2 separate regions of the Homo sapiens genome follow, and region 2 is linked to region 1. A link means that fine-mapping ties the variant in region 1 to the expression of a gene that starts in the linked region. Tissue or cell type: whole blood. Region 1 holds a variant in brackets; the other region holds the start of a gene. Each region is shown on its reference strand, or each on the opposite one. Region 1 overlaps CHD7 (chromodomain helicase DNA binding protein 7). Region 2 holds the start of OTX1 (orthodenticle homeobox 1).

The links. PIP is the estimated chance that this variant, and not a neighbour inherited with it, causes the effect. A credible set is the group of variants that fine-mapping cannot tell apart.
Region 2: OTX1 starts here. The variant in region 1 is the best candidate, but not a certain one, in a credible set for the expression of OTX1 in whole blood (TOPMed, PIP 0.87).

The regions. Positions count from the first base shown.
Region 1 is chr8:60,732,405-60,735,207 of GRCh38, reverse strand. All of the region lies in intron 1 of CHD7 (chromodomain helicase DNA binding protein 7), which reads right to left. Among named protein-coding and RNA genes, the nearest start is that of CHD7, 55 kb to the right of the region's middle. The variant G/TG (reference allele first, on the strand shown) is at 1,416.
Region 2 is chr2:63,049,064-63,051,866 of GRCh38, reverse strand. It overlaps OTX1 (orthodenticle homeobox 1), which reads right to left and starts at 1,037. Exons shown (of 5, transcript NM_014562.4): 1 at 970-1,037; 2 at 550-618. RefSeq lists a silencer at 1,012-1,671 and enhancers at 1,788-2,535, 2,536-2,803, 1,899-2,803.

The sequences.
Region 1 (2,803 bases):
CTTCCTGTCATCATTCATTTAAAAAATATTCAAGGTTAACAGACACTGTGTATACAGTGTTGAACGAAGCAGATGTGGCCCTGTCCTCGTGCAGCTTGCAGTTTGAATAAACGCCCCAGTACATCCCACATATTCAGTGCATTTCCCAACCTGCTAATGCTCTCTCCCAGATATTTATGGGTCTAACTCCTCCTCCCTGTTTACACTAGCTCTGAAGTAATCAGACCTTCATGGTTTAGTGAACCACAAAAAATTAGAAATCTAATCAGTTCTCCTAATTCTGGTCTCAACGCTTTCACACTACTGATTGAATGATCTTATAAAACACAGATTACATCATACCTCTCCCTGATTAAAATCCTTAAAGGACCTCCCATAGCTTTCAGGTTCCAGTCCAAATGCTCCAGCATGCTTGAAGGCACTAATAATCAAATCCTTATTGACCTGTCCATTCTCAACTCCCTTAACTCCCTTCCCTCTATCCCCTGAAGCACTCACAAACACCCCCATTAGGTATATCAAACTACTCAAAGTTTACCAACCATCCATCAGCTATCTCATACCTTCCTCGCCTTCACACCCATGGTCTCTTCCCTGGCCTCCTTATCCCCTCACTGTAGAGGCTGGCCTCTTTTTCATCTCAGTTCCTTTGTTATCACCCATCTTCGGAAGCTTCCTGACCCTCAACCCTCCCTCTTCAGGCTGATTTCAAAGCCCTTGCTAGCAGTACCACCACATCAACATGGGCAGAAGCTACAAAAGTGCCAAGCACGCTACTATTCTTATGTGTTCACCTCCCTCTCTTTCTGGCGACTGGAGCCTTGCCATGTGAAGTGGAATCCTGAGAGACAGGACCCCTGGCACCCCCGGGAGCTGGTAAGAGACGCAGACTCTCAGGCTCACCTCAGACCTCCTGCACCAGAATCTGCCTTTATTAACAAAGGCCCCAAGTGATTCCTGTGCATGTGAAAGTTTGGGAAGTCCTGCCCTCAGACTCTGAGCTCCTCCTACAGGATAGCACACTGACCACTCAGTTAATATAATGGATCAACAACAAATGGCACATGTTACAAAGAATATTATAAAGCAATACAAAGATATGTCACTTAAAGAAAGTAGTCTTGACATTTGTGTCTGACAAATAAACAATACTGACTTCATTCAAAGAATTATGAACAGCCCTTAGTGACAAATTTAATCTGTAACAGTTTACAAGGAGTGGGTATCTAAAGATGGTTTAATTTTAAAGATATGCCCATCTGTTTGCCAATCATTTGTGCAAGTCAAAAAAATGCAGTTAACATTAATATCTAATGCTATGTTACATAACATACTATTTCACAGGTTTCTTGCAGAAATCTTTCAGTTATTTCTACATAACTTTGAAGACTCTGGATATTCTGAGTAGCCTTTAT[G/TG]ATAAAAAAAAAAAGCTGTTCTTTTGTTCCTTCATGCAGTATTGAGGCTAACGTTTCCTTTCAAGGCAACTAATGAAATAGCACTTGGCTAACAGCTTATACTAAGTGCATGCCCACAGCACTAGCTTTTTCCAAAGTGGTCAAAAGGAGTATATTACCCCATACATAAATTATGCCACAAAAGCACAAGGATCATGAAAATTTGTGTCCTTTACACCCTGCAATTCAAAATTCAAATACCTCTCTGAAGCTAACTCCTAAAGGCTAAGCCCACTGAGAAGGTGGCCAGCACCTTGACCCTAACGTGGAGACAGCTGACCTGCTGCCGCAGTGCAGACACTAAGAAAATATGTCCAGCAGGGTCTTCATTCCATGTACACAACATGTCCTAGGAACAGATGGGCACACATTCTAATAGCACCTGAAGTACTCAACATTGTATGGCAAAAGAGAAATGAAGACAAACATGTATCTATATATACCATACCTAGGTGTAGATCACATATGTAGCTACATAAAATATGTGTATCTATCCCATATCTTTTTTTTTTTTTTAAGAGACAGGGTCTCGCTCTGTCACCCAAGCTGGAGTGCAGTGGCACAATCATAGCTCACTGCAGTCTCCCAACTCCTGGGCTCAAGTAATCCTCCCAGTGCGGGCTCCCAAGTAGTTGGGACTATAGTTGTGTACCACCACACCCAGCTAATTTTTTTTTTTTCCTGGGAAACAAAGTCTCACTATGTTGCCCAAACTGGTCTTGAACTCCTAGGCTCAGGGAATCCTCCTGCCTCAGCCTCTTAAAGTGCTGGGGTTACAGGTATGAGCCACTGCACCAGGTCTCATATCTTTTGAATGTTATCCTAATTAATTGTAATATGGTAGAGAAGAAAATCAAATGAAGAGACAGGTCTAGAAATAAGTAAATGAAAACTTTTTAAGTAATTTATTTTGGATAGGAAAAAAATTAAATTTCAGAAATGTATTTCAACCCACCTGGCAAGAATGCTTACAGTGCAGACTTATGGAAGAGTAATGTATATTTTACAAAATTTGCTGATTGCTAGTATGTATCTTGCTTAATATTATAAAATATCCTGGGTTTTGTAAAGCCCAGGGTGGTGTATAAAGGCTAGTAACACCATGTTTATTAGCCTGATTTTAAAAAAATCACCATTAGGAAAGATTTTCCCACTTATTCTAGACTTATTTCAAGCTACTGACTTGACACACAGAAGCTCCAGGTGATGTCAAGCCTACAAAAAGTGAGGGTGGAACAGAAGGAAGGGAAGGAAGGAGCTGCCCTGTGGCCATGCTCTGTCTGGGGACCCCGTGGCAATCACCAGCTCCTATAAGGCTGACACTGAACCTCTGGAGGAGGATGCAGAGG
Region 2 (2,803 bases), not on the chromosome of region 1:
ACTCTCAGGGGTCAGGGAGGGGCGCTGGAAACTGGGCCTGGGGCCCTGGGGGGCCATCGCTACACCCCGCTTAGCGGGATCGCTGTGAAGCAAGCCAGGGACTCGGGCTAGGACGTTCAAGGAGAGAAGTTAGAGCTAAAGAAGCTCCCCCCAGCCCCGTTCCCGCCCCCGTCTTCTGGGACCCAAGACCTGGGCTGAGGGAGTCCAGCTTGTAGGAAGGGGACCGGAAGGGAAGCAGCCAGGGCTCTAGGGCCGAAGGAAAATGGGACTCAAAGCTGCGACGGCTTTGCGAAGCTGCAGCGTGAGTTTTCAAAGACTTTCTCCAAACTTAGCACTTCAGCTTGGTTACTTCGGAGGAGGCGGGGGAGGGGGCTGCGGGCCGCGACAGCGCCCCGGGGTCCTCGGCTCACCAAGAGGGGAGCCAGGCCGCTCCCACAGCCCCGACCACCTGCTGGGGACCGGGGAAGCCGGGATCCATTTGAGGAGGGGGAGATAAGGGTAACCAACGCGCTCCCGGAGTCCGGGGTGGCCCCGCGGCTTTCTCCTTACCTGCCCTCAGCTGCCGGGGCCGTTCACCATCTACCTGGATCTCTCACAGAGACCCGCCGGGCAGCCAACCTGCAAAACAGAGCAGCACTGGAATTACCCTGGCGGCTGGTCTAGGACCCCCAGGTTTCTTTCTTTTCCCAACTTCCTTCTTCCCACCTCTATCTTTTTTTTCAATGGCTTTGTGCGTGTCCTTCTGGGTTTCACTTTATTGCACAGACACTTTGTTTGCTAAGCCCCACACGTTCTCAGGACATTGCCTCGCCTGGGATCGCGCCGAGGGGCCGCAAGGGGGGGAATTCGAGGGGCAGAGTTGGGAGGTGGCTCGGCGTTGCCGCGGCACTCCCGGTGCAACGTGGAGGCAGTGGGGACTGGGAAGTCCTGCAGAGTCACTTTGCAAACTAAATAAATCAAGCGATTTACCTTGTCGGAGTGGCTTGTCTTGCTCGGTTGTTTAGGTGATTGGAAATGTAGCCTGATGAAGATTGATCACCTTTCTACTGCCCTCCCCGGGTATGTGAACGCGAGGCGAGTGCGTAACGGGGCTAGGCCGCCAATCGGGGGCCCCGCGCGGGCTGAGTGACAGGGAGCCGGGCAATGGCTGCGCGAGCCGGGGGTTACCTCCGCGCGCCCCCGCCCTCCCCCGCCCCCCACACCCCGCCCTCCCCGCCCTCCCGCCCCGCCCCGGTCGCGCGCTAACTCCGGGACTCGGCTGGCAAAAGCGGCGCAGAGCTAGGCGAGGAAGGCGAGCGGAGAGCCCGAGTCCTGGCCGCGGAGGGGGCCGTGGGTCTCCAGGCCTGCCCTGGGCGCCCCCGCCCTTCTCGCGCTCTCGGCGCTCCGGAGGGAGTGGCAGGGAGGAGGCGAGGTGCTGGAGAACCGGTTCCTTCGCTCTCCCGCGCGCTACAGGGCTCAGCCGCTCGGGTGTGGGCGCCAGGACCCGGGGGCGGCGGGCTGGAGGAGCCCGGGCCTCGGCCCCTCTCCCGGCGCCGCGGGCCCCAGCGTTTTCTTCCCCGGCGCCGCCACCTGAGACCGACGCCGCGGGCTGCTCGTGCCGGCGCAGGCTACTTTGCAGAGCGCGGGAGCAGCTCCGGGCGTGCAGATCTCTCCTCGGCCCCTCCGGACTCTCGCGCCTGGGAAGAGCACCCACTGGGAGGGCGCCGCCACTTACCTGCTTGCTCGTCGGCATCTCCCGGGGTTCCAGGTCCCCACCAAGGGTGTTTGCAAGTCTTAAGCGCTTCTACTGAAACGTTGGAGCCCAGCGTCCTCTTCCCCTCACACGTACACCCTACTTCTTAATTGAAACATTTTGATAGGAAAGTTTCTTTTTCGCTCTTTCTCTCTCTTTCTTAGACTGCCTCTAACAGGGACTTTTTGATGGAAAATGTGGCCACAGACCCCTGCCCTCAACTTTTTTCCACATGCTGCGTAAGGATCCTCCTTGAGGCGATTTCCCCGGATTGTTCGTACGGGCGAAGCCCATTTCCCACCCGAAAAAACTTCCCAAACACGTCTACCTGGGTGGACTTTTAAAAGTGCAAAAAAGAGTTTTCGTTCCAACTCTAAGCTAGGCGAATCTTTTAAATGGCACCTCCTCCTGAAAATTAGGCACTTTATTCCCTTTCGAGGAATTTCTACCCCTTGTTTCTAATCTCCCCCACTCCCCCACCCCGACAGGCGGGGTAAAAAGTTTGCACAGGATTAAGTGTGAGGGCAAGTCAAGGAGCCTCCAGGCGCATCGCAGTGGGGAGCACTCGCGCTGCCCGGGCTGCGGGGTCGGGCGCCGAGAGCGGACCGGGCGCTGGGTGAGGAGGAGGAGAACGAAGGGGGAGCCCGCTGAGTGAAAAGGGGCCGCGGCCGCCGCTCATCAAAGTGCTTCCCCCTCCCCCAAGCGACACTTTCCTTTGGAGTCCGAATAAAATACGGTAACAGAATATGATGGAGGGCACACTGTTTCCTTAACTGCTTCTCAAAGGACCCGGGAGATCTTCTTAGGACCTTTAATAAGGCTTTGGTCGGTTCTTTTGTTGATCTCTCAAAATCAACTCCTTCTAATTGAAGTTGGAGCTGAAAGCGAGCTAATGTTCAAAGAAAGTGGCCGCCAGACCAACGAAATTACATTTTTTTTTTGACGATGAGGGAACATCTAATCAAAGAGGCAGGGGAGGAGGGGTGGGAGTGGGGGCGTACGAAGGAGAAAAGGAGGTTTTACAAGATCCTTCTCTGGTTCACAAAAGTCAGCGACACGGGCGCTTCTCTA